Homo sapiens: one gene and its partners. The gene in region 4 interacts genetically with the main gene of each other region. Each region holds a gene or a part of one and is shown on either strand. Other genes may lie near its edges. The genes, in order: THOC2, TOP2A, MYO9B, FBXW7, RPS24, UBAC1 and LSM2.

What was found.
Region 1: changes in FBXW7 (region 4) and THOC2 together harm fitness more than expected from each alone (negative genetic interaction), as found in Homo sapiens cells (one large-scale study listed by BioGRID).
Region 2: changes in FBXW7 (region 4) and TOP2A together harm fitness more than expected from each alone (negative genetic interaction), as found in Homo sapiens cells (one large-scale study listed by BioGRID).
Region 3: changes in FBXW7 (region 4) and MYO9B together harm fitness more than expected from each alone (negative genetic interaction), as found in Homo sapiens cells (one large-scale study listed by BioGRID).
Region 5: changes in FBXW7 (region 4) and RPS24 together harm fitness more than expected from each alone (negative genetic interaction), as found in Homo sapiens cells (one large-scale study listed by BioGRID).
Region 6: changes in FBXW7 (region 4) and UBAC1 are lethal when combined (synthetic lethality), as found in Homo sapiens cells (one study listed by BioGRID).
Region 7: changes in FBXW7 (region 4) and LSM2 together harm fitness more than expected from each alone (negative genetic interaction), as found in Homo sapiens cells (one large-scale study listed by BioGRID).

What each region holds. Positions count from the first base shown.
Region 1 is NC_000023.11:123,723,053-123,726,552, reverse strand, and holds part of THOC2 (THO complex subunit 2), read left to right. Parts: intron 1-3,500. UniProt on the Homo sapiens protein: Component of the THO subcomplex of the TREX complex which is thought to couple mRNA transcription, processing and nuclear export, and which specifically associates with spliced mRNA and not with unspliced pre-mRNA.
Region 2 is NC_000017.11:40,411,397-40,414,896, forward strand, and holds part of TOP2A (DNA topoisomerase 2-alpha), read right to left. Parts: intron 2,230-3,500; coding exon 2,084-2,229; intron 1,897-2,083; coding exon 1,799-1,896; intron 1,576-1,798; coding exon 1,363-1,575; intron 423-1,362; coding exon 249-422; intron 60-248; coding exon 1-59. UniProt on the Homo sapiens protein: Key decatenating enzyme that alters DNA topology by binding to two double-stranded DNA molecules, generating a double-stranded break in one of the strands, passing the intact strand through the broken strand, and religating the broken strand.
Region 3 is NC_000019.10:17,190,777-17,194,276, reverse strand, and holds part of MYO9B (unconventional myosin-IXb), read right to left. Parts: intron 3,181-3,500; coding exon 3,058-3,180; intron 1,532-3,057; coding exon 1,215-1,531; intron 1-1,214. UniProt on the Homo sapiens protein: Myosins are actin-based motor molecules with ATPase activity. Unconventional myosins serve in intracellular movements. Binds actin with high affinity both in the absence and presence of ATP and its mechanochemical activity is inhibited by calcium ions.
Region 4 is NC_000004.12:152,323,093-152,326,592, reverse strand, and holds part of FBXW7 (F-box/WD repeat-containing protein 7), read left to right. Parts: intron 1-361; coding exon 362-587; intron 588-2,198; coding exon 2,199-2,409; intron 2,410-3,443; coding exon 3,444-3,500. UniProt on the Homo sapiens protein: Substrate recognition component of a SCF (SKP1-CUL1-F-box protein) E3 ubiquitin-protein ligase complex which mediates the ubiquitination and subsequent proteasomal degradation of target proteins.
Region 5 is NC_000010.11:78,036,863-78,039,029, forward strand, and holds part of RPS24 (small ribosomal subunit protein eS24), read left to right. Parts: intron 1-331; coding exon 332-442; intron 443-576; coding exon of another isoform or gene 577-579; intron 580-1,102; coding exon of another isoform or gene 1,103-1,108; exon of another isoform or gene 1,109-1,120; intron 1,121-2,167. UniProt on the Homo sapiens protein: Component of the small ribosomal subunit. The ribosome is a large ribonucleoprotein complex responsible for the synthesis of proteins in the cell. Required for processing of pre-rRNA and maturation of 40S ribosomal subunits.
Region 6 is NC_000009.12:135,937,374-135,940,873, forward strand, and holds part of UBAC1 (ubiquitin-associated domain-containing protein 1), read right to left. Parts: intron 2,387-3,500; coding exon 2,300-2,386; intron 988-2,299; coding exon 849-987; intron 1-848.
Region 7 is NC_000006.12:31,796,967-31,800,466, reverse strand, and holds the end of LSM2 (U6 snRNA-associated Sm-like protein LSm2), read left to right. Parts: intron 1-1,959; coding exon 1,960-1,990; intron 1,991-2,417; coding exon 2,418-2,477; intron 2,478-2,584; coding exon 2,585-2,710; 3' UTR 2,711-3,071; downstream 3,072-3,500. UniProt on the Homo sapiens protein: Plays a role in pre-mRNA splicing as component of the U4/U6-U5 tri-snRNP complex that is involved in spliceosome assembly, and as component of the precatalytic spliceosome (spliceosome B complex).

The DNA of each region.
Region 1 (3,500 bases), on a different chromosome or scaffold from region 4:
AGTGCATTGTTATAAGGAGAAGTTTTTTTTTTTTTTTTTTGAGACAGGGTCTCACTCTGTTGCCCAGGCTGGAGTGCAGTGGCACGATCTTGGCTCACTGCAGCCTTGACCTCCTGGGCTCAAGTGAATAAGGAGGAATTTTAAACAATTATTTTATTTCTCTTTCTTTCTCATCCTTTCCTTTTCCTTTCCTCTTTTTCTTTTTTCTCTTTTTCTATATGAAGGAATATTTGAAATTGCATTTTAGTAGCCCGAGTACAAAGGGAAAGATGAGTTACTTTATTCTGTTAAATTCTTCTTTCAAAGACATGGTGCTTCCTGCTATTATTATTATTATTTTTTTTGAGACAGAGTCTCACTCTGTCGCCCAGGCTGGAGTGCAGTGGTGCGATCTCGACCCACTACAACCTCCGCTTCCTGGGTTCAGGTGATTCTCCTGCCTCAGCTTCCTGAGTAGCTGGGATTACAGGCATTGGCCACCAAGCCCGGCTAATTTTTGTAGTTTTAGTAGAGACGGGGTTTCACCATATTGGCTAGGCTAGTCTCAAACTCTTGACCTCAAGTAATCTGCCCTCCTCGGCCTCTTAAAAGTGCTGGGATTATAGGTGTGAGCCACGGTGCCTGGCCCCTGCTATTATATTCTAAAGAGAATTGACCCTATAAGGGAAATGAGAACCCAAAGAGGGAATTGTTTTAATACTTCATAGTAAATATTGAAGCAACCTTGATATACTTATATATCTCCTCTCCACAAAAGACCTAGATGGCATTTTTAGGTTATATCTTCTGATGCTAGTCTGAAGCAGATGTTATTTCTGTGTTGCCTGGTGGAAGGAAGATTGATTTTGTTTTATATTCCAGATAAACTTATGTTAGGTTTAACGTATTTTGTGAAATTAGAAGCTTAATCGTGGTTTTTTTTTTTTTTTTTTTTTTGAGATAGGGTCTCACTCTGTTCCCCAGGCTGCCCAGGCTGGAGTGCAGTGGTACTACGATCACCACTCACTGCAGCCTCGACCTGCAGGCTCAAGTGATCCTCCCAGCTCAACCTCCCAAGTAGCTGGGATTATAGGCATGTGCCACCACACTTGGCTACTTTTTTTTTCTATTTTTTTTTTTTTTTTGTAGAGATGGGGTCTCACTTGTTGGCTAGGCTGGCTAGGCTGGTCTTGTACTCCTGTGCTCAAGTGATCCTCCCACTTCGGCCTCCCAAAGTGTTGGGATTACAGGCATGAGCCAGCATATCCAACTTTAACCAGTGTTCTTAACCAACCACTGTTCTCTTCTCAACCCATTAGAAGGCCTGTCTAGTTCTCCAGGGAAGTAGTTGAAAGTACTTGGGATCAAACTTAAACCAGCTTACCATTTGTAAGGTACTCTCAGAATAATTTTTTTAGTGAGAAATGTTTAATAGCTAAATGACATTTTCTTTCTTTGTTTTTGTTTTTGAGATGGGATCTTGCTCTGTCACCCTGGAGTGCAGGCTGGAGTGCAGTGGTGCGATCATGGCTCACTGGTGTGATCTTGGCTCACTGCAGTCTCAACTTCCTGGGCTCTGGCGATCCTCCCACCTCAGCCTCCTGAGTAGCTGGGCCCACAGGCGCGTGCTACCATGCTCTGCTAATTGTTTGTGTTTTTGGTAGAGACAGGGTTTCACCACGTTACGAGGCTGGTCTTGAACTCCTGAGCTCAGGTGATATTACCAGGCTGGTCTCGAACTCCTGAGCTCAAGTGATTCACCCACCTTGGCCTCCCAAAGTGCTGGGATTACAGACGTGAGCTACTATGCCTGGCCTGACATTTTCAAACTAAATATTTAATTTAGTAGATGCTCTCCATTGCCCTTATTTTTTATTTTTATTTTTTCTGAGACAGAGTCTCGCTCTGTTGCCCAGGTTGGAGTGCGGTGATGCAGTCTTGGCTCACTGCAACCTCTGCCTCCTGGGTTCATGCGATTCTCCTGCCTCAGCCTGTAGAGTAGCTGGGATTACAGGTGCGCACCACTGCGTCCAGCTAATTTTTGTATTTTTAGTGGAGACGAGGTTTCATCATGTTGGCCAGGCTGGTCTCAAACTCTTGACCTCAACTGATCCACCCACCTTAGCCTCCCAGAGTTCTGGGACTACAGGTGTGAGCTACAGTGCCCGGCTTCCATTGCCTTTTTATTTTTTGGTTTTGAACATATTTGTGAAACCTAGAAGTGAATTGTTGACCAGCAAAAGTTTACTCTGTTGACTTTTAATAACCTTACCCTGCTCATCCTGATGATAGGGTATTGACATAATCAGAAGGCACAGAGGTGAGCTGCAAGGTTATGTATAATCTGCAAAGTAGATAATCTCTCTGTGGATGATTGTAATCTGGCATCTTATTTAGCCTTAGATGTGATATATAAGCAGGTTCTGTAAGTCTTAAAATTATTTGTTTCATTGACTAGAAAAAGGATTACTAGATATAAAAGAGTAAGAAACTCTTCTATATGAATTCATTGGCTCTCTTTAAAGCCTTGTGCAACATGGAAGAATTTTTTTCTAAATTGTGAAATGTAATGAAAATACAGAGAAGTCATGAAACCTCAATATAGAGCTTAAAATAATCACTGTAAGATGCACCCCCATGTAACTTACACCCAGGTCAAGGCAACATACTGTTTGTTCCCGATCAAACCTTTCCCACCTCTCATGTAGTAAACATTATCCTGACATTTATGGTTTTCCTCTTGATTTTTCTCTTTTTTTAACCTTGCATCTTCAACTCAAAGAAACTTTCTTGATTTTCTTTGCAGTGTCATTACCCAATATGTTTAATTTTTTTCTTGAACTTCATATAAATGAAATCATTGAATATTTATCCTACTGTTTCTGGCTGCTTTTGTTCAACAGTTATGACTTTTAAGATTCATCCATATTGTATGTTTGCAGTTCATTGATTTTCCTTTTTTTTTTAGTTCATTCATTTTCATAGTTGCAAGATACTCCATCGTATACCAGTATTTGTTTATTTTTATGCTGTCTTGTTAAACATTTTTGTTGCGTCTAGTTTTTGGCTATTACTAACAGTGCCAATAGAAACATTATTATACAACAGTTTTGGTGTATACAAGCATGTGTTTTTGTGGAGTATATACTAGGTGTAGAATCTCTGGGTTATAGGTTACACTTTAGCTCTGTTAGATATTGCCAGGCTATTTCAGTGTACACTCCCACCAGCAGTGTATGAGTTGACCTTGTTTCACATTGTCACTATGTTTGATATTGTCAGACTTAAATTTTTTGTAAATATGTATGTAATTTTACTGTGGCTTATATTTCCATGAGCATCTTTTTATATGTTATTGGTCATTTGGAGTACTTCTTTTTTTTTGTTTGTTTGAGACAGAGTCTTGCTCTGTCGCCTAGTTTGGAGTGCGGTGGTGGCGTGATCTTGGCTCACTGCAACCTCTGCCTCCCGAGTTCAAGCGATTCTTGTGCCTCAGCCTCCTGAGTAGCTGGGATTACAGG
Region 2 (3,500 bases), on a different chromosome or scaffold from region 4:
ACAACATCAACAAGTTTAGTCACAATCTGATCAGCTACATAATCAACATGTCTGCCACCCTAATAAGGAAAAATACCAAACTGTAAAACTCAGTATCCTCAAAATTATAATAATCAAACATTAAAAACTAATTTAACCTCCTTTATACTAAGCTAGCCCAATATTCAAGTCCACTTTATATATTAAAAACAATAAGAACACATATATGTAAAGATAAATCATGATTAATAATTTAAGAATAAAATTACCTTGGATGTAGCAATGCTGTTGACAAAGCTAATTTGCTGAAAGCCTTTTTCACTCATAGTTAAACACACTTCCCACCTGTGGTTTACTTGTTCATGTATTACTTTCAAGGAGTTACCAGTTTCATCCAACTTGTCCTTCAAATACATGTCCACATAACTACGAAATCCTTTTACCTGTACAGGAATTAAAGGTAACAGTATTAAGAAAGTTATTAAAAAATAGGTTCAATGATAGACTATGAGGACTTTCCAAAACCAATGCAATGATGTTCACTGATAGGCATAAGGGAATGGTCATTAAAGGACACAGGCCGAGGTGGGTGGATCACTTGAGCCCAGGAGTTCAAGACCACCCTGGGCAACATAGTGAGATCCCCACCTCTATTAAAAAGAAAAAAAAAAATTAGCTGGGCATGGTGGTGCTGCCTGCATTTCCAGCTACTCCAGAAGCTGAGGTGGGATGATCGCTTGAGCCTGGGAGGTCCAGGCTGTAGTGAGCCGTGATTGCATCACTGTACTCCAGCCTGGGTGACACAGCGAGGTTATCAAGAAAAGAAAGAAAAAGGAAAATAAAAAAAGGACATGAAATATTTATTTTAGGTGTTTCTTTGAGAAAGAAATTCCTTCGGTAAGTTTAAAATGAGCTGATTAAAAAATGTGGCATACCATTCTCTTTTCAAGAACATATGTGAGAAGTGGTAAGAAAATACATATGGTTGGGCCAGGTGCAGTGGCTCATGCCTGTAATCCCAGCACTTTGGGAGGCCAAGACGGGTGGATCATGAGGTCTGGTGTTCGAGACCAGCCTGGCCAACATAGTGAAACCTGTCTCTACTAAAAATACAAAAAATTAGCCAGGTGTGGTGGCAGGCACCTGTAATCCCAGCTACTTGGGAGGCTGAGGCAGGAGAATTGCGTGAACCTGGGAGGTGGAGGTTGCGGTGAGCCGAGATCGTGCCACTGCACTCCAGCCCGGGCAACAGTGTGAGACTCTGTCTCAAACAAACAAACAAACAAACAAACAAAAACATATGGGAGGGGAAAAAATTCAATTTTGCACTTGACAATGATTACAAAATCCCTTATTATCCTTAACATCCAGGAAAATACTCACTGGCAGTTTATTTCCATTAAGAAAGACTTTGACATCTTTGGTGGATCCAGCAATATCATATGCTCTTCTGACCATTAGTGCAACAATATCTTTGTCCAGGCTTTGCATTTTAAACTTAGACAAATCAGGCTGAAAGGTGATACATGTATAATCTTCTCCATTGAAGGGCTTGAGTTCCATCTCACCAGCTCTTCCCATATTATCCATCCATGTCTATGGAAGTAAAGAATAGGAAACATGAAAAATTCAAGTCATCTCACAAACTGGAAGTAAATAACATAAATTTATGAGTCCTAATAACCTAATATATATGCTTATAATTTTCCATACTTCAATAGCTTATAAATTATGTTAAATTAAACCAATCATTAATGCCATTATAAATGGCTATACTACTACCATTTATCATTAAGGTACAAGACACTTATTTACTTGCCTGTTTGAACATTTTCTTGTATTCTCTACTGGCTGTTTCCACAGTAAATTTGGTACTGAATATGTTACACAATTTGGCTCCATAGCCATTTCGACCACCTGGGCAAATAAATATGAAACACTATTTTATTGTTACTATCTCATTGACAGCTTTATTTCTTAATCACTGGCAGAGCTATTCAATTATAGAGATTTATTTCCATATCTTTAACCCTCATGCCACAGACAGTCATTTAAATATATATATTTTTAGCAACAAATATGTTATTTCCCCTCAATACTCTACCTGTCACTTTCTTTTCATCATCATCATAGTTACTAGAAGTTAGGAGCTGTCCAAATATGAGAGCTGGGACATACATCTTTTCAACTTTGTGTTCAACAACAGGAATACCTTTTCCATTATTCCATATACTAATTAAATTGTTTTCCCTAAGAAAAAAAGATTGAAAATTGTATTTTACAACACATTAAACGAATGCTTAACATTTAAAAATATTTAAATACTATTATTTCTAAAATATGTATATTCAGGCTGGGCGCGGTGGCCTGTGCCTGTAATCCCAGCACTTTGGGAGGCTGAGGAGGGCAGATCACTTGAGGCCAGGAGTTCTGGCCAACATGTTGAAACCGTCTCTACTAAAAATAAAAAAAATTAGCCAGGCATGGTAGCGCATGCCTGTGATTCCAGCTACTTGGGAGGCTGAAGCAGGAGAACTGCTCAAAGTGTTGGGGTTATAGATGTGAGCCACCATACCCAGCCCTCAATTTTTTTGGCACTTTTCATATATACCTTCTGAAATTCAGCAGGAACATTTCCCACCATGCTTAGTTCCTGACATTCCTGAAATAGGAGTCAAGAGGAAAAAAAAACCTTTTCCAACACCTGAATAGACACTGATAATGTTGAAAAAATACAAAATTTTAAAATGTTAGGATAAACAGAGGGAAATGATTTATGCCCAATGGAAAGAAAAGGACAATCTGGAAACATTATTATACACCACTCCCACTCCTTTTTTGAGACAGCATCTCGCTCTGTCACCCAGGCTGCAGTGTAATGGCAGGATCACAGCTTACTGCAGTCTTGACCTCCTGGGCTCAAGCAATCCTCCCACTTCAGCCTCCTGAATAGCTGGGACTACAGGTGTCCATCACCACACCTGGCTAATTTTTAAATTTTTTGTAGAGATGAGGGTCTCACTATATGGCCCAGGCTGGTCTCAAACTACTCCTGGGCTCAACTGATCCTCCCACCTTGGCCTCCCAAAGTGCTGGGATTACAGGAGTGAGTCATCATGCCTATTATACCCCTTTCAAGAGGATCATCTATACATCTCGTTCCCACTCAACAAAGTACATAAAAACAGGCTGGGCGCAGTGGCTCACGCCTGTAATCCCAGCAATCCCAGCACTTTGGGAGGCTAAGGCAGGCAGATCACTTGAGGTCAGGAGTTCGAGACCAGCCTGACCAACATGCAGAAACCCCATCTCTACTAAAAAAAATACAAAATTAGCCAGGTGTGGTGGTGTGCGCCTGTAATCCCAGCTACTCTGGAGGCTGAGGCAGGAGAATTGCTTGAACCCAGGAGGTGGATGTTGCGGTGAGCCGAGATCATGCCACTGCACTCCAGACTGGGCAATAAGAGCAAAACTCCATCAAAAAAAAAAAAAAAAAAAAGGAAAACCAATATCAATCATAA
Region 3 (3,500 bases), on a different chromosome or scaffold from region 4:
AAGAAGCCTCAAACTCCTTTGGGGTCCACTGTGGGCTTTCCCTTGGGTCTTTTTCTAGGAGGCTTTTTGTTTTGCTTTTATTTTATTTTATTTTATTTTATTTTTGAGACAGAGTCTCGCTCTGTTGTCCAGGCTGGAATGCAGTGGCACGATCTTGGCTTGCTGCGACCTCTGCCTCCCGGGTTCAAGTGATTCTTGTGTCTCAGCCTCCCTAGTAACTGAGATTATAGACATGCACCACCAAGCCCGGCAAATTTTTGTATTTTTCGTAAGATGGGGTTTTGCCATGTTGGCTAGGCTGGTCTCCAACTCCTGGCCTCATGTGATCTGCCTGCCTTGGCCTCCCAAAGTGCTGGCCTTACAGGTGTGAGCCACTATGCCCAGCCTGTTTTGCTTTTAGAGACAGTGTCTGGCTCTGTCACTTAGGCTGGAGTGCAGTGGTGTGATCATAGCTCACTGCAGCCTCGACATCCCAGGCCCAGGTGATCCTCCCACCTCAGCTTCCTGAATAGCTGGGACTACAGGTGTGTACCACCACACCTGGCTAAGTCTTTAATTTTGTGTAGAGATGGCATCTTGCTATATTGGCCAGGCTGGTCTTGAACTCCTGTGCTCAAGCGATCTTCCCATCTAGGCCTCCCAAAGTGTTGGGATTACAGGCATGAGCCATTGCACCTGGCCTAGGAGGCTTTTGCATGTGTGGGTAGGGCCTGCTCCGGGAGCTGGGACCTGACTTGTGGCAGAGCTGGGTCTGTGTGGGCAGGGGAGAGGTGAACAGGGTGCCTAGGTCGGGGAGGGGCTGGGCTCGGAGCTGTGGGTGCTGGGACGGGAGCTGCTGATATCCTCCTGGGGGCTTCTCTGTGCCCGGTGGATGCCCCAGCTCCATGTGAGTGTTGGGCTGGTCCAGGCAGCCCCTCCAACCCTGAATCCAGGTGTTCCCTGACCGATCCAGGTACAGGGGAGTCCCTGGGCAGAGAATGGGTGCAGCCAATGGCAAAGCAGGGCTTTGTCCCTGAGTGCTGCCTGCCAGCCTTGGAGCACTTCTCTGCAGCCCATGAGTGCCTAGGCATCTGGTTTCCCACCAGCCTTTCCCTGTGTCCAGAATGACATCCCCTTAGTGCCACAGGCCAGATGGTATATCACGGGCAGCAATTTGGTGAGTGACCTTTTTGGCTTCTGGAATATTCCGAGGAGCGTGGCCCGGCTCTGCTCACCTCTTGCGCTGCAGGTGCCCCCGACACAGGCTCTGCAGGCGGATGATGCTCTGTTTCTGGTGCCGGTAGAGCTTCCGCTGCCAGTAGCCCCTCCATGAGGCCTGGAGGTACACGGCAGCCTGCGTCCTCTCCAGCGCCCTCCGGACCCGGTAGGACCGCCAGCAGGCCTGGATGGTGACGGCGGCCCGCTTCATCTGCAGGAAGTGCCGACGCTCCAGCACCATCCGGAACCAGCTCTGCAGCAGCAGGATTTTCCGCACCACCTCCCGGTGCAGCGTCTCCTGCAGGGCTTGCCGCTCCGTCTCCTTCAGGAAGACCTGGTGGGCACGGGGTCAGGTGGGGTCAGCTGCACTGCCCCTGACACCATCTCTGTGCCTGGGAGGTCTGCATAGCCCACTCCAGAGTGAGACCTAGGCTGGTGTGCTGACCAACCAGGGCTTTATTTATTTATTTATTTATTATTTTTTTGAGATGGAGTCTCACTCTGTCGCCCAGGCTGGAGTGCAGTGGCATGATCTCGGCTCACTGCAACCTCCGCCTACTGGGTTGAAGTGATTCTCCTGCCTCAGCCTCCCGAGTAGCTGGGACTACAGGTGCCCATCACCAGGCCTGGCTAATTTTTGTATTTTTAGTACAGACAGGGTTTCACCATGTTGGCCAGGCTGGTCTCGAACTCCCAACCTCAAGTGATCTGCCCGCCTTGGCCTCCCAAAAATGCTGGGATTACAGGCATGAGCCACTGCACCTGGCTGTGGCCCCCCCTTTTTTTTTTTTTTTTTGAGATGGAGTCTCACCAGGCTGGAGTGCAGTGGCCCGATCTCAGCTCACTGCAACCTCCGCCTCCCGGTTTCAAGCGATTCTTCTGCCTAAGCCTCCCGAGTAGCTGGGACTACAGGTGTGTGCCTGTAATAAAACCCTGTCTCTACTAAAAATACAAAAATTAGTCAGGTGTGGTGGCGGGCACCTGTAATCCCAGCTGCTTGGAGGCTGAGGCAGGAGAACCAGTTGAACCTGGGAGACGGAGGTTGCAGTGAGCTGAGATCACACCACCTGTCTGGGCAACAGAGCAAGACTCTGTCTCAAAAATAAAAACAAAAAAGAAAAAAGAAATGAGATCTCGCTCGGTCACCCAGGCTGAAGTGCAGTGGTGCAATCAGGGCTCACTGCAGTCTCAAACTCCTGCCTCAGCCTGCCAAGCAGTTGAGACCACAGGTGCATGCCACCACGCTTGGCTAATTTTTAAATATTGTATAGAGATGGGGTCTCGCTATGTTTCCCAGGCTGGTCTCAAACTCCTGGGCTCAAGGGATCCTCCCACCTCAGCCTTTCAAGTAGCTGGGACTCTGCGTGCATGCCACCTCGCTTGGCTGGAAGGGAATTTTTTACACCAGGTGAGGCCTTCAGGGGGACTGACCTTGGCGCTTGTTAAACAAGGGTGGCTGAGTAATGCTCCCATAGCAAGAGGCAAACACATGCCCAGAGATGGGAGACAGTCTCTGAAAGGGAGGACAAGTGCAGGCCACCTCCTGCCTCATACCGTAAAGGGGACTGACCATCTCCTAAATCCTGCCAGTTAGCACGATCGTCCCTTTCCTACCTGTGAGGCAGCAATAAACAGGTGACGCGGAGGGAGTCGCTGAGCCCTGCTGAAGAACAGCAGGTGGGGCTCAGCCAGGGCGGCCCCTATCCCTTAGGTGCAGTGCTCTGCTGGGTCCCGAGAAATGCATTTCCTAGACAGAGCCCTGTATGTTTCAGAGAGTGGCCCTGGGGGCCTGGGGAGACACGGTGTGCGGTGGAAGGCAGGGTGTGGGTTTGTAGTGCCCCGAGGGGCAGGAGCGCTGACCTTGGTCTTCCCGATCTGGTAGTTCCTCTTGTCTATCTTCATTTTCTCCAGGAGGGTGGAGATGACCTCCCTGCAGGGCTGGGCATCCTTGGGCAGGAGCACCTGGAACTGCTCGGTGAAATCCTAGGTTATTTGGGTGGAGAAAGGAAAATCTAGGTGAGTGTTCTGGCCAGCGATGAGGAGACAGAGATCTGGTGACCCTGGTTAAGGTGAAGCTGGGTTTGACAGGAATGGTAATGACAAATCTAAAATTTCAGGCTTTCAGAAATAGTCTGGGCCGGGTGTGGTGGCTCACACCTGTACTCCCAGCACTTTGGGAGGCCGAGGTGTGTGGATCACCTGAGGTCAGGAGTTCGAGACCAGCTTGGCCAACATGGTGAAACCCCATCTCTACTTAGCCGGGCATGGTGGCAGACACCTGTAGTCCCAGCTACTTGGGAGGC
Region 4 (3,500 bases):
TATTTCTAAAATCAAAATCTTATTGTATATATTTAGAGGCAGCTTCTGCTGCTTTTTAAAAAATACAGTACAGTGGTTTTCAAACTCAGTCCCACAGAACCTTAAGGTGCTGAACCTAAGGTCCCCAGGTCAGGGAACCAAGCATGCAGCATTCTAGGCTTCCCAACTTCCCATTCCCTTATTATGTTTATATACCAAGGTTTTACATAGGATTTCTTTTGAAAATGGTTGTTGCTGTGTAAAAAAAAAAAAAAAAAAGCTAAAAAACCTTGACTAAATCTACCATGTTTTCTCATATTATTAAAAATTCTAAACGTGGGTTTTTTTGTTTTGTTTTGTTTTTCTGTTTCTCCCTCTGCAGAGTTGTTAGCGGTTCTCGAGATGCCACTCTTAGGGTTTGGGATATTGAGACAGGCCAGTGTTTACATGTTTTGATGGGTCATGTTGCAGCAGTCCGCTGTGTTCAATATGATGGCAGGAGGGTTGTTAGTGGAGCATATGATTTTATGGTAAAGGTGTGGGATCCAGAGACTGAAACCTGTCTACACACGTTGCAGGGGCATACTAATAGAGTCTATTCATTACAGGTAAGATCTCTTATCTCTCCCTTAAATGCTCTCCTGATGAATCATAAGGTTGTTTTACTCAGATAATCACTGTCAAATTGCTGATCCAGTACAGTCCAAAAAAGATTAATCAGATTATTCTGCTGTTTTTATATACGTTAAAATTGGCATGAAGAAAGTGTAAATTTCAAAATTATTTAAATGCTTTCAATTTTCTGTGATCTATTTCTCCTCTAAATACAAATATTTGTTTTGCAACCTGACACTTTGGGGCTCTAAGTTTTGCTATGTTAATTAATGGTTAAATAGTCTCATAGGAGAGTAACCTGGATTTTAAGAAACTCCTTTGCAGAAGATTAATATGGCCAAAAGCTGCCCCTTTGCTTTGATAGCTGAAAGTTGATGGACCATGTAATTGTGATTCCATCCCCATTCAAAGTGGAAATAGATCCTTTCTGCATAAAGCACTCTACTGTCCCAGGCCCACTGATTTGTAGTCATAAAGAAGTAAAGTTGACTAAACCGATTTCTTTTTTTTGGTTTATATTTCAAGCCCATATCCTTGAAAACATTGCCATATTTTGAGATCATTAACTAGATGAATAGGAAGTTTAGAATATGAATCTTGTTTTATTTCCAGAAAGGCAACATTTTTAATGTAAAAATATTTCCTATAGCTTATATAGTTTATTTACCAGTTATTACCCATTAATGTTCAGCAAATTAGTACATAATCTTAGTACTGTCAATTCTGTTCTTAGGATATTTGTTTCTTTGTCAAAGGGATATTGTCCATGTCATGAAATATTGACAATATGATAAAAATGTTTGCTAAATTAGAAAAGGTGATGAATTTGGAGGAAGGGGAATTGGCTGCACCTGTTTCTGATATGTTCAGAAGCTTAATGAATATAATATTCTAATTTAAATAAACTGTTTGATTGAGAAAAGAGGTAGCCACATTATTGTTTAGAAATGATAGACTGTTATTGACTTTTGGTGTAGCTGGGAAGCTGGAGAAGAGGTAGTATGTAGTTTGCTTTTGATTTCAAAATGCCACCTCTTCTGATTCCAGATACAATTATCTTTTGGCACATTTCCTAATTAGCATTAGGTTCTTATAAATGAAATTTTATTTTACACACAGTTTTTAATGGAACTTACTTTTGAACATCACGAAAGTTATCTCTAGCCCTTTTCATGCCTTAGGTGCTGATAAGCATTCCGTTTATCATAAGCTATGTCATTAGTCTCAGCTTCCTAGTGGGAAGTAAAACTCATAGCAATTCTCTCAGTCATCCATGATATATAGCTAGGTGGGGCCAGATGATTTGAAAATTAACATATTGTTCATTTTAGGTGCTTTGTTTTCATTTTAAGTTGTTTCTGCATCTAGTTTGAAGCTGCTTGGCATAAAGATGAGCCTTTCTGATAGAAGTGTGTGAGAACATACATTGTAGAGTTGCTTGATGGCATGCACTTTATCCTCATTGCCACTTTATCTTAGTACCTCATTTTGTTCCTGGCATTACCTGTTTCCCATCCTCTTCCCCCTTTCCTACTAGGATTAAGGTCAGTAATTGATAGGAAGAGTATCCATACTTCTATTCTAATAAACTGTGTCTTTTGTAGTTTGATGGTATCCATGTGGTGAGTGGATCTCTTGATACATCAATCCGTGTTTGGGATGTGGAGACAGGGAATTGCATTCACACGTTAACAGGGCACCAGTCGTTAACAAGTGGAATGGAACTCAAAGACAATATTCTTGTCTCTGGGAATGCAGATTCTACAGTTAAAATCTGGGATATCAAAACAGGACAGTGTTTACAAACATTGCAAGGTAAGTCTTACTCACCTTTCGTTTTGTTCATTAAAAATGAGATCATTATTCAAGAGAAATATGGAGCCTTAGCATCACAAAAAGAGTCAACCTCATACAGAATGGTTACTTCAGAAAAGTTTATGAATATTTTCACCCTGACTTACAGAACTAGTCTACTCTTGAGGAAATGTTTTAAACTGTGTTTTTAATATGTAATATAAAATTGTTTAATCACTTCCTGCATGTTCAATTGACTCTACTTAACCTTTAAGAACAGTGAGAAGAAAGATCTTGGCTATATCATAGAAGCAACGTACTCATTATATTTTTTGATTGACCATTGCATTTTGAATTTGTAGTCCAATTTTAAAGGGCTACCTTATTGAAAAAAACAACAGCATCCTTGATAGAAAATTTATTTGGCCTCCACTTAGTCACGTGCTTAACTGGAATGGAGAGGAATAATAGTGCCTACTAAAGTAGAGAAAGAAACAAGTGAAAATCACTAATATTAGATGAGGTACAGCAGTGCCTCATGATTAACTTTTTCTATTTGTTATAGCCCTTAGAAAGTGTTTTTTTCAGTGGGGCCATCTGATAGGCAACATTGCAGCTTTTTACTCATTGGTTTTGTCTCTCCTCAGAGTTTTGGAATAGTGACTGTTCAGCTTTGAGTGGTTCATGGTGGTGGGGTAATAGATCTCTTAGTGCTCATTTGTCCATCAGCAGAAGGTATGAAGTTGCACTATCTACATCCTCACCAAGGAATGCTGTCGTTCACACAGCCAGAAAATAAGATGTTTGTCTGGTAGCTAACCAAGCTTCTTGGAAGACAGACCTCTTGAAAGTTAATGTTTCAGTTACAAATCACTACCAGATTTTCTTACATCCATGCTGATCCTAAAATACTGAGGACATGGGTTTCTAAATATGTATCATTTCAAATGTTGCATTTATTGTATGTTCTAAAGTAGAAGTCTACAAATTATAATGTAACTAACTCATAGCCATTATTTCTAACCAGTAATTAAATTCTTTTGGTTTTTGTCTAGGTCCCAACAAGCATCAGAGTGCTGTGACCTGTTTACAGTTCAACAAGAACTTTGTAA
Region 5 (2,167 bases), on a different chromosome or scaffold from region 4:
CAGCCACTTCGGAGGTGCCTTGTTTTGGTAGTGCAAAAGAAGAAAAAATAGTGATCTGTGAGCTCAAGTCTGGACAAGAACAGCCAGTCTCCCAAACTCCCTGTTGAGAGAATGTTGAGTGGACCATTTGTTTCCTGTGAGGCTATTCCATACCTAAAATCCCTTGATGATCCTTTCTGTTCCAGCAAAAACATGCATTAAATGTACTTGAAAAGTTTTGGTTTAGAAAGCTGTGTTTCTTAAGCTCAGACTGGGTCAGTTTCCCTACCAGAGTGGTGGGTAATGATTTTAATGTTTACAAGTCACCTGGATGTACTCTTTTCTCATTCAGCATGGCCTGTATGAGAAGAAAAAGACCTCAAGAAAGCAACGAAAGGAACGCAAGAACAGAATGAAGAAAGTCAGGGGGACTGCAAAGGCCAATGTTGGTGCTGGCAAAAAGGTATAGTTCATTAAGGAAAATATAGAAACGTCATTAATTGTAGGTCTTTAGTTTCTAGGAAAGAAGGGATCTTATTAATTTTTAAAATAACTTTTCTTAATGTTTCTTCTTTTCCCTCTTCTTCTGGATTACAGAAGGTAACATGTTTTAAGAAACTATGTAGCATAGTGTCTTAACACCTCAGTAAAGTAGCTTGGCCCACCCCTTGTCAGCTCACAGCACAATCTGGAGGCCACATTGGTTCATTGATCCCAGCTGGTGGGCACCTTTCAAGCCTATCACAAGAAGTTTTAATTTTACTAATTGGCATAGAACCTTCAATGCAGAGCGGATCCCATTCCCTGTGATTTTACTTATTAATATGGACACTGGTTTAAGAAGCAGTTGGATCAATGTGGCCCGTGTTTTCCTGGCACACTGGAAAGGCAACTGAGATCTCAGGATTGCTTTCCTCTCCAGTTGGCCAAGACAAGTGATTTTAGCGATAAGCAGCTTTTTACCAGCTTTGCTAGCTGTAAATAGTTGGACATTGTAAATCATTGAATAGAATTAAGGTGTTGGGTTGTTAAATTAACAAATAATCAAGTGTTCTGTGAACTTTTTTTTTTTTTTTTTTTTTTTGCTTTTCCTCTCTACTTTCTTGGATTTCTTGTTCATCAGAAATGAAGTGTCTAGCAGGTACTGAGATTGTAAGCACGGTGTGGGGATGCATCACCTTCACTGAGTTTGCTTTGATGATGCTTTGCATGTTGGCCTTTGGACGACAGTTTTATAGTATGGTCGATTATAATGCCAGTGCTATTTAGGCTGGTGCAAAAGTAATTGCAGTGGCAAAAACCACAATTACTTTTGCACCAACCTAATATGTTTTAAGATAGTATATTATGAGCAAAGGAGAAAACGTTTAAAATCATGTTTATTTTGTAAACTCCAAAATGCATGTTACATGTGAAGTGACTCACTGGAGGAAGGTGAGTACTTTACCAAGTAGGCACTTGGGAAATGCTGTGTCCACATACTTAGGAAATGGCTTCAGTTAACACTGGGCTTGGGAAGGGCTCTCTTATCCAAGGAGCAGTCTTCTCTGGAGCCATGAAACCAGCCTGGCAGCACTGGTAATAAACTAGTCTGTGAAATCTGGCAAAGCCTCTGTCCTGTTTGGATATACGCAAAACTGCCTTTTACCATTTCCATTGCTTTTTATTACTTAATCTCCCAACTTTGTGCCTGGTGTCTTTTTTTTTTTTTTTAAAATAGAAAATTTTTGAGGTAATTATGTATTCATATAAAAGTCTTTGGTGGATATGCTTTTTCCCACAAGCACTTGGTTAGAATGGCCCATTACCTCATTTGTTTATTTTTTGAGACAGGGTCTCTTGTCACCCAGGCTGGAGTACAGTGGCATGATCATGGGTTACTGTACCTCCCGGGCTTGGGTGATTCTCCCACCTCAGCCTCCCTTGTAGCTGCGACTACAGGCATGTGCCACCGTGCCCTGCCAATTTTTTGTAGAGACAGGATTTAGCCGTGTTGCTCAGGCTGCTCTTGAACTCCCGGACTTGAGCAGTCTGCTTGTCTAAGCCTTCCAAAGTGCTGGGATTACAGGTGTGAGCCACTGTGCCCAGCCTGTTACCTCATTTAAAACAAATTTTGCACATCTGAACAGCCTAAAATTGTAATGTGATAAGTGGGGTAGGAGTGGGGTGGGCGTAGTGGGATTTTGAA
Region 6 (3,500 bases), on a different chromosome or scaffold from region 4:
GAGGTTGCAGTGGGCCGAGATCATGCCATTGCACTCCAGCCTGGGTGACAAGGCGAGACTCTGTCTCAAAAAAAAAAAAAAAAAAAAATCAGGAGTGGCACCACATGTAGACAACCCAACGAGCCCTGGGTTCCCAGTGCCTTCCATCAAGAAAATACTCCACAACCCCCACAAAGAACGCAGTCAGTCACAGAGGCCTGCTTAAAACATGATTCTACTTACACAAAGGCAGCAGCAAATGAGAGATTGTTTAAGGAGACACAAATACGGCAAAACTCTACCGGGAAGCAGAGAGGTAAGCCGCGGCCACGGCGACGGCCACACCGGAGGGAGGGATGAGGTGCATAGGGGAGGGGCACCCCAGGCCCAAAGCTGAATAGTAGATACATGGCTATTAGTTTTATTCTTCTTTAAAGTTACATCATCATATACACTTTTGTATGTACGTATCTCACAATAAAAATAAACCATTGCCATCGAAGACCCTGACGAGTAGTAAGAGCAAAAGCCCAAACCACACCTTGTCCTCCCGTGAGTTCCTAAGCTGCTGGCGCAGTCTCCACCCCGCTGGCCCTCGGAAAGCCACTGGCACTGGTTTTCTGAGGCCTATGTCAGGGTCATCGCGCAGGAGACAGTCACACCACGATCAGAACCTGACCTGCGGGCCCCACAGTGACGTAGCGGGACTACACCCGCAGGATGCCAACCTGCATGGCAGGACGTGCTGCCAGCGCACGGCGATCCTCAGCGCTGGATCCTCCGTATCGCCTCCGCAGCACCTATTTGTCCTGCAAGGGAACCAGCCAGCCTCCCCGACCCGAGACTTAGCATAAAGAAGGCGCACATACCTAGCAATGTTTTCGGGTTGGTCAGGCCCAGCTGCACCACCGGGTTATCCAGGATGGCCTGAAAGAGAGGACTGTCGGGGTCGATGCCCTTGTCCAGCTCCTCCGGAGAGGGCTTCCGGTCCCCCAGCAGCCACTCGCACTGCAAAGCCAAGAGCACCAATACCACTGTTAGCGCCTTCAGTGCCTCCGCAAGACGCCACCAGCAGCAGGCATGACAGCTCCTGCACCTTTCTGTGAGTTCCTGTTGAGCCCCCAGGGCTGATCTCCCTGGAAGGGACTCTACCGTGAAGACAAACGCAGTCTGGATTCACTGCCGTGCGTGTCAGACCAGGCCAGAGAAGGAAGAGCTAGTCCGCTTTTCTCTGCAGACCCTGGTGTCGCAGGGATCACTGACTGCTGCCGCTTCCCCACTTACCTGGGCCAGTGTGGCCCACCCAGGAGTGTTGGGAAGGTGATTAACAAATGTACCAAGTGCCCAGCTTGCCTGTGGTCCTGTTATGGGCAGTCAGCAGTGCTGGAGCCATGAGGACACAGGCTCCTCATCTCTGTCTTGGAGGTGTGAGCCACGAACTCCACTGGCACGGGGGATGGTGGGGGGGGGATGTGGGCCACCACAGGGACCTCCCCAGGCACAGCTCCATCAGCCCAGCTGGCACACGGGCACAGGACGGGAATCATTCTTGAGTCAGTTTAATCAGAAAAATGGGCTGGGAGTGGTGGCTCATGCATGTAATCCCAGCACTTTGGAAGCCAAAGCAGGAGGATCGATTGAAGCCAGGAGTTCAAGATCAGCCTGGGCAACAAAGGGAGATCTTGTCTCTAAAAAACTAATTAGCCGGGCATAGTGGTGCATGCCTGTGGTCCCAGCTACTCAGGAGGCTGAGGCAGGAGGATCGCTTGGGCCCAGGAGGTCGAGGCTGCAGTGAGTGTGATCACACCGCTGCACTCCAGCCTGGGGGACAGAGTGAGACCCTGACTCCAAAAAAATTAAAAAAAAAAAAAAATGAACAAATTACCCATCCATAAAATATGTACATATAAGGCACCCTTTTAAAAACCTAGAATTCCGTATTTTTAAATTTTTATACTGTTTGAGCCATCTATCCAATTGTCTCACTTTAAAAGCCACATAGCCGGCTGCATGTGAAAGTAGGCAAACACACGGCCTCCACCACGCCCGGGGCGCTCACGAGTGAGGCTCCCAGCACTCGCCCAGCCTGACACACTCACTCACCACAGCCCACACTCACAGCCCACACTCACTCACCACAGCCCACACTCACTCAGCCCACACTCACTCATCACAGCCCCCACTCACTCACCACAGCCCACACTCACCACAGCCCACACTCACTCACCACAGCCCACACTCACTCACCACAGCCCACACTTACCACAGCCCACACTCACTCACCACAGCCCACACTCACTCACCACAGCCCAACACTCACCGCGGCATTCTGCTGGTTGTTGTTCACTCTGAGGGCATCTATCACCTCTTTCTCGTCGAACCCCATCTCCATCAGGGAAATGACGGCCTAGAGGACAGCACAGCCGTTAGCTCGCTGGGGGCGGCAGGAGGCCGAGGAACCAGTGACCTGCGTGCAGAGGGGCCCGCTCCCCGCACCCTAGCGGAGGGTGCTCCCAACAGCACTGAGGACGCTGTCCGTCCACGTTCTTTCCTCACAGCTCTGCTAAAACAGATCTTGGTTTTCAGCATCCTAAAGCCGAGGAAGTGCAGGGATGACTGTAGTTAGCAGAGCCGGGGGGCAGTGCAGCTCCCAGGCTTGTCTTCAGGGAGCCACAGGTTGTGACAGGTAGAAACGCATCGCTTATGTGGACACGAGGCAGTCAGGCCAACTTCAGACCCTTTCAGGTTTGTCCCGATGACTGTGTGGATAAGACTGTCTCGGCAGCCACCGCAGGTTTACCCCAGAGGGCCTTGTTACCCAAAGAGAAGTGGCATTAGGGAAAGGCCACGTCAGTAAGTGCAATCTCAACGGAAACAAAAATGCCATTGTAACCTGTGAAAAAAGGTTTTATTCAGATTTTATCTTAGAAAAAAAAAAATCCTAGGGCCGGGCGCGGTGGCTCACACCTGTAATCCCAGCACTTTGGGAGGCCGAGGCAGGCGGATCACCAGGTCAGGAGATCAAGACCATCTTGGCTAACACGGTGAAACCCCGTCTCTACTAAAAATACAAAAAAATTAGCTGGGCGTGGTGGCAGGCGCCTGTAGTCCCAGCTACTCGGGAGGCTGAGGCAGGAGAATGGCATGAACCTGGAAGGCGGAGCTTGCAGTGAGCCAAGATCGCGCCACTGCACTGCAGCCTGGGCGACAGAGCGAGACTCCATCTCAAAAAAAAAAAAAAAAAATCCTAAAACTAATTTTTTAACTTTTAATATTGAACAAAACTTAAGCTACAACTGAACATATGCTAATTCGTTTTTGGGGAAGGACATACATTTTCTGGACACAATTCATGTAACAAGATAATACATCCTCTACTCTGGAGATTTATACCACAATGTTTAAAGGGGTCCATTTTGAAAAAATATAAATAAGTAAGATGAAGGCTTCATCAAAATTTCAAGGGCCTCTCCTAATCCCTGAAAGGTCAGATCCCACTCTCTTGAAGCCCCCAGAGTCCT
Region 7 (3,500 bases), on a different chromosome or scaffold from region 4:
CGCTGGGTTTTAAAGACTTTCAGAATTTTACAAAAATTGGGGCAGAGAACTGCCAACTTTATTTTTGGCAAGATAAGGACGTTTTTAAAACTGCTATTTATTACGATTATTTTTATTTATTTATTTTTCTTGAGATGGAGTCTCACTCTGTCACCCAGGCTGGAGTGCAGTGGCTCGATCTCGCCTCACTACAACCTCCACCTCCCGGGTTCAAGTGATTCTCCTGCTTCAGCCTCCCGAGTAGCTGGGATTACAGGCGTCTGCCACTATGCCCAGCTAATTTTTTGTATTTTTAGTAGAGATGGGGTTTCACGATGTTGGCCAGGCTGGTGTCGAACTCCTGACCTCGTGATTCGCCCGCCTCGTCCTCCCTAAGTGCTGGAATTATAGGCGTGAGCCACCGTGCCCGGCCACAGTTATTTTATTTTATAACTTTAAAATAGAGATGAGGTCTTGCTATGTTGTCTGGGCTGTTCTCCAGCTGGCTTCAGGCGATCCTCCTGCCTCAGCCTCCCAGAATGCTTGGATTATAGGCGTGAACAACCATTCCCAGCCAAAGGCTGTTTTTTTAAATTTTTGCACCATTCTCTCAAAGAGCACTGGTGTTTTGATAGCATTCCTCAAATAGCATTTCAAGGGGCTCGAGGATTGGGGAATGGAGAGGACATCACTCATGCCTGCATCATCAAGAGTAATGCTACCTACCTTTATCCACATATGGGCTCTGGTTCCAAAGCAATAAATGTTTGAAAATAGCTAGCCTGGGTGACATTCACAGTGAGACCCTTTCTCTACAAAAAAAAAAAAAAAAAGTCGGGAATGGTGGCTCATGCCTGTAATCCCAGCACTTTGGGAGGCTGAGGTGGGCAGATCATGAGGTCAGGAGATCGAGACCATCCTGGCTAACACGGTGAAACCCCGTCTCTACTAAAAATACAAAAAATTAGCCAGGAGTGGTGGCCGGCATCTGTAGTCCCAGCTACTCGGGAGGCTGAGGCAGGAGAATGGCGTGAACCTGGGAGATGGAGCTTTCAGTGAGCCGAGATTGTGCCACTGCACTCCAGACTGGCCGACAGAGCGAGACTCCATCTCAAAAAAAAATCAGCTGGGCATGGTGGCTCAAGCCTGTAATCACAGCTACTCAAGTGGCCACAGTGAGCCATGATCACGCCATTTCACTCCAGCCTTGGCCATAGAGTGAGACCCTGTCGCAAAAATAAAAAAAAAATAGCTGATGGTTTTGGGAGTCACACAGACTTGGACTGAAGTTCCCATTTGTTCTAAACTCATAAAGTTTAAAACAACCTCTCTGAGCCCCTGGAAGGTAATAACTACTTTGAAAGATGGCTGTAAAGATTACAAATACTATATAGAATACAGGTCTAGCCTTTACCAGTTGTTTAATGGTAGCTGTTAAGAATAGGTTGGTTTGGCCGGGGACAGTGGTTCACACCTGTAATCCCAGCACTTTGGGGAGCTGAAGTGGGCAGATCGCCTGAGATCAGGAGTTAAGGAACAGCCTGGCCAACATGGTGAAACCCCATCTCTACTAAAAATAAAAAATTAGCCGGGCATGATGGCATGCGCCTGAAGTCCTAGCTACTCAGGAGACTGAGGCAGGAGAATCGCTTGAACCTGGGAGGCAGAGGTTGCAGTGAGCCAAGATCACACCACTGCACTTCAGCCTGGCTGACAGTGAGACTCCATCTCAAAAAAAAAAAAAAAAAAAAAAAGAATGGATTGGTTTAGGGAGAGGAGATGTGGGGTTGAAAATAAACTACTCTGTTAGTTGTCTTTCCTACTCCAGGGCTTAGGAATGCCCCCTTTTGGTTCTACCTTTTCTGACATCCTCAAGTCCTTGACTTCTCCCAGTCATGTTCTCATCCCAGCTCTGAAGTCACCTCTATGTTGACTTTGTTATAAACTAATTTGATTCTTCTCTCCCTCTGCCCTTGACAGCATCTGTGGAACCCTCCATTCTGTGGATCAGGTGAGATATAGCACGGGCCCCAGAATTGGTTCCTGGAGAAGGAGAGGGGAGACTTAAGGGTTGGGTTCTTACATCATGTCTCTAGGGTTAATAATGGTGTTCGTCGGCCAGGCACGGTGGCTCACGCCTGTAATCCCAGCACTTTGAGAGGCCGAGGCCTGAGGTCAGGAGTTCAAGACAAGCCTGACAAACATGGTGAAACCCCGTCTCTACTAAAAATACAAAAAATTAGCTGGGCGTGGTGGTGGGCACCTGTAATCCCAGCTAGTCGAGAGGCTGAGGCAGGAAAATCATTTGAACCCAGGAGGCGGAGATTGCAGTGAGCCGAGATGGCACCATTGCACTCCAGCCTGGGCAACAAGAGCAAAACTCTTGTCTCAAAAAAAAAAAAATAATAATAATAATGGTGTTCATCTTCCTTTCCTAGTATCTCAACATCAAACTAACTGACATCAGTGTCACAGACCCTGAGAAATACCCTCACATGGTGAGTTGGGGTCTGTGGAGAAGAGGAAACACCTCTAAAGCAGGAGGCCCCTGGGTGGTTAGAGGACATTTTTAAGGGTGTTTTCATATTTGTCCATCTTTGTCTAGTTATCAGTGAAGAACTGCTTCATTCGGGGCTCAGTGGTCCGATACGTGCAGCTGCCAGCAGATGAGGTCGACACACAGTTGCTACAGGATGCGGCAAGGAAGGAAGCCCTGCAGCAGAAACAGTGATGGCTCCTCCTCCTCTTCCCCTCCCTCTTTCATTGGTGACCCATAACCCCAAGTCCCAGCCCAGAACCCCTAACCCCCAATACTTGAAGGGGTTTTGTTTTTTTACTAATGATGGTTTTGTGGGTTTTTTTTAAGGGATGAGTGGATGAGAGGAGTAATAGGGAACAGCTATCCTCTCTTGAGAAGGGGAGGATAAGTAGGCTGGGAAACTTCAAAGCCTTCCCAGTCCCCAGCACCTGCCTTTCTCACTACTTCTCTGGAGATGGTAGGAGAGTTTCCTAGGTCTTTCCAGGGCAGCATGTGATTCATTTGGGGATGGAAGGAATCTGTCCCGCATCGGGAATAAAATTTATGATGCAAATTTGTGTTTTGGTTCTGTTACTATGTGTTGGGCAGGGGGCTGGGACATGGAAAAGGATGTCGAATTCATCCAAGCCCCTGTTACTCTGCGTTAACCCAGCCAAGAATCCAACTCAGCTTCCCACTACTCTCCTTGGTATAAAGCATATAATACAGTTGCTCTACACCATGTTTCCCCAACATGTCCCTACCTGTATGTTCTCCCTGTGGCCTTTTGCTTATACCATACCTGCAACTGGAGTGCTTGCTGTCCTTCCATTAATGTGATAGTGTCATAAGATACATTTCATGCTACCAGACTTCACCAATCCAACCAAATCAGTTCATGTTTTCTGAATATGTATAGAAGATAAATACAAGTGATGTAATTTATATTTTAGAGAAAAGTTGTGACTGGGAATTACTAAACTTCATTCACTCATTCAGCAAA